Linked DNA regions of Homo sapiens. The protein of the gene in region 2 purifies or fractionates together with the protein of the main gene of each other region. This does not show direct contact. Each region holds a gene or a part of one and is shown on either strand. Other genes may lie near its edges.

Region 1 (4,302 bases), on a different chromosome or scaffold from region 2:
TTGCCCGGGCTGGAGTGCAGTAGCGCGATCTCGGCTCACTGCAACCTCCGTCTCCTGGGTTCAAGCAATTCTTCTGCCTCAGCCTCCTGAGTAAGCTGGGGTTACAGGCGCGCGCCACCACGCCCCACTAATTTTTATATTTTTAGTAGAGACGGGATTTTGCCATGTTCGTCAGGCTGGACTCCAACTCCTGGACCCCAGGAGATCACCCGCCTTGGCCTCCCAAAGTGCTAGGATTACAGGCTTGAGCCACCGCACCCGGACTAGTATTTCTTTTTAAAAACAGTTGTTCTGAAATTTAGAAAGCTTTGTCTGTATGATAAAGTTCTGTAAATAGTGAAACTTAAATTGTCTTTTCTGGTTGCTGCCAGGTAATCTGGTGAAATATACTTTACAGAAACACTTCTCTTTTTTGGCTTTCAGAGCTTCACCTGGGGTTTACAGGCCTCCAAAGGGTCCTTGAATAGAATTCAGAGATTCTGTGAACTTTATTTTCACTAAGCTCTAACTGAAACACAACGTTTCCTTGGCCTATGAATGTGGGCAACACATCCACAGTAGTCTTAGAAGTGTCTGTGGATTTGTCATCAATCAAAATCAGAAATATTTTCATATCACATTATAGTTGCTGATATTTCAGAATATTGTCCATACTTTTTGCTACTTTGAAATCATAGTAATTATTTAAAAAGCTGTTAGATCTTATTTAATTTTGCTTGTTAATAAAGAGGCATATTTTAAAAATTTTTTGATAACTACTTCATTATAATTTGTTTCCTTTGTTATGTATTTTATTTTATACATTTAAAAATATTATTCTGAGAAGATCTATTCAGAGGCTTCACCAGACTGCTTAAGGGGTTCATGGCACAAAAAGTGTTAGAAATCCCAATTACTTTGCTACAGAGCTTTATCATTTTTATGAGGATTTTATGATTGGTGAATGGTCATTTTGATTGATTGCATCTGTCACTCTCCCTCAATTACTTTTTCTTTTTCTTTCTTTCTTTCTTTTTTTTTTTTTTTGAGACGGAGACTCTGTTGCTTAAGCTGGAGTGCAGTGGTGCCATCTCGGTTCACTGCAACCTCTGCTTCCTGGGTTCAAGCGATTCTTCTGCCTCAGCATCCCGGGTAGCTGAGACTACAGGCGCGTGTCACCATGCCCAGCTAATTTTTTGTATTTTTAGTAGAGATGGGGTTGCACCGTATTAGCCAGGATGGTCTCGATCTCCTGACCTTATGATCTGCCCCCCTGGGCCTCCCAAAGTGCTGGGATTACTGGCATGAGTCACTGCACCTGGCCCCCTCAATTACTTTTTCTAAGCCTACTTTTGGGATTGATACTATCTTTATTTATTTATTTATTTATTTATTTATTTATTTATTTATTTATTTTGCGACAGAGCCTCGCTCCGTTGCACAGGCTGGAGTACAGTGGCGCAATCTCGGCTCACTGCAACCTCTGCCTCGTTCAAGTGATTCCCCTGCCTCAGCTTCCCAAGTAGCTGGGATTACAGGCACCTGTCACCACGCCTGGCTACTTTTTGTATCTTTAGTAGAGACAGGGTTTCACCATGTTGGCCAGGCTGGTCTTAAACTCCTAACCTCAAGTGATCCACCCACCTCAACCTCCCAAAGTGCTGGGATTACAGGCGTGAGCCATCACACCTGGCTCCTTCAATTTTTTTATTGTGGTAAGATACATATAAAATTTACAAGACTTAACTATTTTTAGTGTATAGTTCGGTAGTATTAAGTACATTGATACTGTGCAACCATTGCCATCATCTTGTGAAACTGAAGCTCTGTACCCATTACAACAATAACTCTCCATTTTCCCCAACCCCCAGGAACCGCCATTCTACTCACTGACTCTATGATTTTGCCTTCTAAGTACCACGTGTAAGTGGAATAACACAATTTTTTAAAGAACTTTTTTTTTTTTTGAGACAGAGTCTCCCTCTGTTGCCCAGGCTGGAGTGCAGTGGCATGATCTTGGCTCACTGCAACCTCTGCCTCCTGGGTTCAAGCAATTCGCCTGCCTCAGCCTCCTGAGTAGCTGGGATTACAGACGCCTGCTAGCACACCCAGCTAATTTTTGTATTTTTAGTAGAGACAGGGTTTCACCACGTTGGCCAGGCTGGTCTCGAACCCTGGGATTACAGGCATGAGCCACCGCGCCTGACCTTAAAGAACATTTGAAGTTTGTTTCCATTGTTACAGATTTTTTTTTTTTTTTTTGAGATGGAGTCTCGCTATGTCACCCAGGCTGGAGTGCGGTGGCACGACTTCAGTTCGCTGCAAACTTCGCCTCCCGGGTTCAAGCGATTTTCCTGCCTCAGCCTCCCGAGTAGCTGGGATTAAAGGCGCCCACCACCATGCGTGGCCAATTTTTTTTTATTTTTAGTAGAGACGGGGTTTCACCATGTTGGCCAGGCTGGTTTTGAACTCCTGACCTCTAGTGATCCACCCGCCTAGGCCTCCCAAAATGCTAGGATTACAGGGGTGAGCCACCACACCCGGCCCAGATAGTATTCTTATATAATAACAGATGAGTTGCTGTCAGATGTTTATTCTCATTGGTAGAAATAATAAGAATATAGGGCATAAATGGCCTTTTTCAAAATCTTACAGGTGAGGCAGATGTTGAAGTCCATTCAAACTTTGAAAAAGTTATGACGTGGGTGATCTTGCCTTATTTCCAAAGGACACATACAGAAAGAAACACCTTTATTTATTTAGAATCTTTCAGAGGCCCAGACCTGCTGGCCTGTTTTTGAAAGGACTTTGCCTCCGTTGGTGTCATTTTTTTTCTCTCAGTTTATACTACTGTGAAAATGATAGCTTTTTTTCAACCTCCTTTATGCTCAAGGAATTTTTGTTTCCAGGGGATTTATTGAGGCATGTCTATATTTGATGTAGATTTCCTTTTATTTTCAGGTATTTCTGGTGGTCGCATTCATATGTCAGTTTTAGGAAGGCTTGGGACATTTGAAACTCAGATTCTGCAAAGAGCTCCTCTTAGATCCTTTACAGAAACACCAGCATACTTTGCCTCAAAAGATGGGATAAGTAAAGATGGTTCTGGAGATGGAAATAAGGTAATTATTTTATCTTATTGGCATCTGTACACATTGTGAGTTCCCTCCTTTAAAAAAATATAACAGTACTGTCTCTTACTGGCTTATATGTTTTCTGTAGGAAATATGAGATAGCTAAAATGATCTGAATAATTTTATGTAATTAGATGTTTCATTTTGAACCTTAAAATACTTTTATAAGCATTGCACATAGTAAGCAGTAATTAAAATTTCTTACACCCCAAAGTAGTAAAGAAGTGTCATTAAATGACAGTCAGTAGGATTGAATTAGGAATAGCCATCATTTCCTGCTTTCATATAACTCTTATAACCCATGGCAGTATAAACCTCACTTTATCCTCTACCTAAAAATTTCAGATTTGTGGTATAACTTAATGTTGGGCTACTCTGGTAGCCTAAAAATTTCATATTTCTGGTATAACTTTATGTTGTAGCTAGTATAACTTATGTTGGTAGTTGTATTGAGTCAGTGACTTAACAGTTTTTTTCATTACGTGAATTTGACTAACACTTGAGTTAATTTTATATGTTAGACAAAATGTGAGACACTTACATATCCATACTTAACAGTGACTCTGATGTGAGTAAAATTATTCCCATTTTAGAGATGAGAAAAGTTAGATCTAAGAATAGTCAGAGTCACTACCTACCATGATAATAACTCCTGATTCAATTTCATTGAAATGTAGTTTTTTACCCTTAGTAAATTTTCTAGTGCCTGAGTCATTGAATGAAAGCTGTTTATTATATATGTTGGCACATGTTATACAAAGGAGGACTGCAGATATATATGTATTTACTAGAACTGATTTGATTTTTGAAGTAAATAGATCTTCTGACACCAGTAATAGAATTATAAAATATACTAATAATTTCATCCTAGAAATATAGAAGATTATAAAATTAATTACAAACAGTATTGTTTACATTTAAGTTGGTTGCCTGAAACTAATAATTGACACTCTTCCTTTTTTCTCCTTCATAAACGTTAGAAATCAGCAAGTGAGGGAAGTAGTAAGAAATCAGGCTCTGGGAATTCTGGGAAAGGTGGAAACCAGCTGCGCTGTCCTAAATGTGGCGACTTGTGCACACATGTAGAGACCTTTGTATGTAAGTATTACATCTTCTACTGTTCTTTTTTCCCTACATTTTCTGTAAATTACTAAGTGTATAAAAATATGTAAATTATGTAAAATGTATA
Region 2 (4,881 bases):
CTATGAACATGAGTGTGCAAATATCTCTTTGACACCCTACTTTATTTGTATATATACCCAGAGGTAGGATTCCTGGAGCATATGGTAGTTCTATTTTTTATTTTTTGAGGAACATTTATACTGTTTTCCATAGTGGTTGCATCATTTTGCAATCCCAACAAGGCATAAGGGTTCCAATTTCTCCACATCCTTGCCAAGACTTATTTTTTGTTTGTTTGGTTTTTGTTTTTATAGTAGCCATCCTAATGGGTATGAAGTGATATTTCATAGTGGGTTTGATTTGCATTTTAATGATTAGTGATGTTGAACATTTTTTCATATGCTTGTTGGCCATTTGTATAAAATCTTTGGAGAAATGTGTATTCTAGTCCTTTACCCATTTTTTTCTTAAAAAATGTTTATTTATATAAATTTATGGGGTACAAGTGCAATTTTGTTACATGCATAGATTGCATAATGGTCAAGTCAGGGCTCTTAGGATGTCCATCACCTGAATAACATACACGGTACCCATTCTGTAATTTCTCATTTCACGCCCCTCCCAATCCCTCCTTTGCCCATTTTTAAATTGGGTTATTTGATTTTTTGCTGTTGTTGAGTTGTAGGATTTATTTATATGTTCTGGATATTAACCCCTTATCAGATATATAATTTGCAAATATTTTCTCCCATTCCATAGATTGCCTTTTCACTCTGTTGATTATGTTCGTCAATAAATTAAAGTCTGATGTGGTCCCGTTTTTTCTATTTTTGCTTTTTGTTGCCTGTGCTTTTGGTGTCATTTCCAAGAAATCACTGCTGAGTCCAACATCATGAAGGTCTCTCCCTATGTTTTCTTCTAGGAGTTTTATGGTTTTAAGTCTTTAATCCTCTTGCTCAGTTTTAACCTGCCTGGTGTATCCTTCTCATCACTTCTGTTCCTTTCCTGTTACTCGTTTTCTCTTCCCTTCTTACTACCTTTCGTCCTCCTCTTCCTTTCACCCTGTCCACCTGCCTCTCTGTCTCTCGGCCTCTCCCCACCCCCCGACCCCCACCAGTTTCTGCTGTTCTTCCCTCACATTCACAGTTCCTTACCCCTCCCAGCCCATCTCAAACCTGCTTTCCCACCTCTGAGCTGAGCATTCCCTCCTCCCTCCGCTGCTATCACTTCTCTCTTCTCTTTTTCAGGCTTCAGACTGGCACCCTGACCATGGAACCCTGAAGTGGCAGTGACTTCTAGAGCTCAGTGGCAGACCCCACGACCCTTCCTCCCCCTTCCTCCCCCTCCCACCACCAGCTTTCAAGCTCCCAGAGGGAGGGGTGGGGAGGGGATCCTGATCTCACAGGGCAGGGGGCTTCCATCATGATGCTCAACTCAGACACCATGGAGCTGGACCTGCCGCCCACCCACTCAGAGACTGAGTCGGGCTTCAGTGACTGTGGGGGCGGGGCGGGCCCTGATGGTGCCGGGCCTGGGGGTCCGGGAGGGGGCCAGGCCCGAGGCCCAGAGCCGGGAGAGCCTGGCCGGAAAGACCTGCAGCATCTGAGCCGCGAGGAGCGCCGGCGCCGGCGCCGCGCCACAGCCAAGTACCGCACGGCCCACGCCACGCGAGAACGCATCCGCGTGGAAGCCTTCAACCTGGCCTTCGCCGAGCTGCGCAAGCTGCTGCCTACGCTGCCCCCCGACAAGAAGCTCTCCAAGATTGAGATTCTGCGCCTGGCCATCTGCTATATCTCCTACCTGAACCACGTGCTGGACGTCTGAACTCAGCCTGTCTCCCACCTCCCGGGCCTCTCTGGGGCCCCTTTCCACCGCTCACTGCTTAGAAAGGCCGCATCCTCCCCGAGCCCTTATACCTTGGCATGGAGTCCCAAAGGCCCTGGGCACAGGCAGAGAGCCCACCGGCTGGTCATGAGGGCCTCTTCCTTTCTCTGACCCAGGCACCTCGAGGGCTATTCTCCTGGGTTCCTTCCGGGGTTTATTGCTGAGGCCCAGCTGTGCAGAATTGTTTGCTAGTGTGGTTGGTATGGAATCCTTGCTGGCTTTACTAAGCCAGCCACACTTGGAGTCTGCCCCCAAGCTCTCTCACTGAATGCTGCCTCTTCTACCCCTATGTCCAAATTTTCAGCCACCACAGACCTCAGCTGTGTATCCTATCTGTTCTAGCTTCTCCTGCCCCTGGTGGGGATGGGCTGTCAGAATTGCAAGGGAGGAAGGCTGGGGTTAGAGTGGGGAGTGGGCTTCTTCCTCCAAGATCTCAGTCTCTCAGTGCTTGGCAGAGGGGTGAGGCCCTGGGGAGGCAGGGGTTGGTGCCCTGACTCCTGTGAGGGGAATCTCAGTAGCTGGGAATTATGGAAAAACTCTTCCTGTTTCTGTCCATCTTGTTCCTGTGGCTTAGCACATACAGACCTCAGATCTTACTTGGTAGTGAGTGCCTTGCCCTCTTTGAGCTATTTGGCTACTTCCCTGTCCCTCTGACTCCTACTGTCCCAATTTTCTCCCTCCCTGTGTGTCACTAGAGAAAAAAAAAAACAAAAACCTAGATTCCGGATTAGGGGATGACATCCCAAACAGCCCGGAGTATTTGCAGAAGGCTCAGGCAACGAGTGGGCCACATCTCACTTCTGCTTCCTCATCTCAGCCCACTCTGAAAATGTGCAGCACCCTCACTGGTTCCTCCCCCCAACGCAAGGAGGATGCCCAATTGTTGCCCTCTGAAAATGCACAGTTCTCCTGGCCCTAGGACTTACTTATTACATTTTTTTCTCTTTCCTTGAGCTGCCTTTGGCAAGGGAAGAGACCCCCAACTCTGCGCCCCTACTCCATGCTGCTGATCCCCACCTGCGCACTATAGCTCAGGGTCAGCAGTGGAATGAAGGGCCTTAGAACCTGCATAGAAGAAATGAACTCACTGCATTTCTGTGCTCCCTCCTCCCTCGCACCAAACTCCTAGCTCTACAAGTATATTTATTTATTTATTTATTTATTCATCTATTTATTTACTTATTTATTTATTTATAAATATTGCTATTTATTGCCGAGTTGTGCACTTTGGGGTAGAGTGAGGGGCTCCCAGCAGCTCTAGCTGGGTCTCTCTTGCTTCCTCCCTGCTTACGCCTTTCCTTTTCTTGCTCCTTCTTCAACTCCTGGTGTGTGTGAGCATGCCCTTTGCTTGCCACACCATATCCTTTCCCCAGATCCACCTGTCCTGACACTCTAGTCCTCCAGGATAGTGCTCCTCCCCCAGCTCCAGGGCTCCTGGATGTCCTTCCTCAACTCCCTCCACCCCTAGACAATCCTACCTGGTCCCATCTGCCTCTTTTCTCTCCCCAGCCTGCCCTGTGACCCTTGCCTCTTCCTGATACTCCCAAGAGCAGGCCCCAGGGGTCTGTGTCACATATCTCTGTGTGATTCCTTCTGGTTGCATCCCCAATTTCATACAAAAAGAAAAATAAAAGTGACCTCGTTCTAGCACCAGGTATGGTTGTGGCTCATTCAATTGGGTTAGGAAGCTGGCCTGCAGGTTATGGTAGGGTGGGCATTGAGGGTCCTAGGCTTCGTAGGCTCTTCTGATGGGGTCAGGAGAGCTCAGTTTGGGGAACAAATGAAGACAGAGAAAAGGGGCCACAGGGAAAAGAGGTGCAGGGGAGAGTATAACATACAGGTCCAAGATCTCCTCACCAAAATCTGGGTGCCAGATACTCCCTTCTTGGCACTAATTTAGTGACACTATCTGACTTCTCTGATGTTGTGCTTCCGCTCCTGCTCTCTATGGCCTGAGAAGGAGGTGAATATTTCGGTGGAACCCAAGTTAAACATGTGTCTGTGGGTCCATGCTGCTGGGAAAAGCTATGGTATGAAACTGAGACATTGCCTTCCCCTTTATTGTCTCTAGGCTGGGTCAAAATTCCCTGCAATCTCAGTTCTTGGCCTATTTTGTGTTCCCCAGCCTTAGGATACTGGGGAAAACAGATGGCAGGCCTGGGACTCAGAGAAGAATATGGACAGGGATAAAAAAAAAAAAAGAGTGCTGAAGGGACCCTCAAATGAATTTATAGATGGGGACACTAAAGCTCAGAGAAGGGTAGGGTCTTACCCAAGGCCACACAGCTAACTGGGGGCACAACTAAGGCCCAAATCCAGGTTCTTTCTACCATATGCTGCCAACTCCCCTCTGCCTCCCTAAAATGACCCAGGCTGACAGTTAGCCCTCTTTTGGACCCCATATTTTCATAGGTGCATTGATAAACTAGAGAGGATTTAGGGTTGTGTGGCGAAGAAACCAAAAGGTCTGGAGACCACTTTATAGAAGAAATAGTTGAAAAACTGAGGATATGTGTCTTGATAAGAGTAGACTTGGGGGTAATATGACACCCATCTTTAAATATTGAAAGAAGAATCAAAAATGGATATTCTGTGGGGCCCCAGTAGGCCGAACAAAACCCGTGAGTAGAAGTTAGAAGAAAGCAGATTTTAATTTGAAGAAAAATTTTGCAACACCTGGAGCTGTCCAGCAATGGCACTGACTGCCTCAAGAGGAGAACTCCAAATAGAGAAGCTGGAGAGTCAACCACACGCAGAGAAATCATAGAGCACATTGCTGCCTCAGATGGAACACTGGCTAGGTTCATTAGAAGATCCTCTCCAAACTTAAGGTCATACGAGAAGGCTGAAGGCAAACAGCAGGAGGGAAATGCAGAGACAACTTTCAGTCCCTGAAATATTTTCTTTTTTCTTTTTATCTTTTTGAGACAGAGTCTTGCTCTATTGCCCAGGCTGGAGTGCAGTGGCGGGATCTTGGCCCACTGCAACATCCACCTCCCCATTCAAGCCATTCTCGTGGTTCAGCCTCCTGAGTAGCTGGGACTACAGGCGCCCGCTGTCATGCCCGGCTAATTTTT

Evidence for each region.
Region 1: the proteins of NHLH1 (region 2) and CLPX purify together in Homo sapiens (affinity purification with mass spectrometry; one large-scale study listed by BioGRID and IntAct). This does not show direct contact.

What each region holds. Positions count from the first base shown.
Region 1 is NC_000015.10:65,178,843-65,183,144, reverse strand, and holds part of CLPX (ATP-dependent clpX-like chaperone, mitochondrial precursor), read left to right. Parts: intron 1-2,940; coding exon 2,941-3,101; intron 3,102-4,093; coding exon 4,094-4,211; intron 4,212-4,302. UniProt on the Homo sapiens protein: ATP-dependent chaperone that functions as an unfoldase.
Region 2 is NC_000001.11:160,369,390-160,374,270, forward strand, and holds the end of NHLH1 (helix-loop-helix protein 1), read left to right. Parts: intron 1-1,167; 5' UTR 1,168-1,342; coding exon 1,343-1,744; 3' UTR 1,745-3,457; downstream 3,458-4,881. UniProt on the Homo sapiens protein: May serve as DNA-binding protein and may be involved in the control of cell-type determination, possibly within the developing nervous system.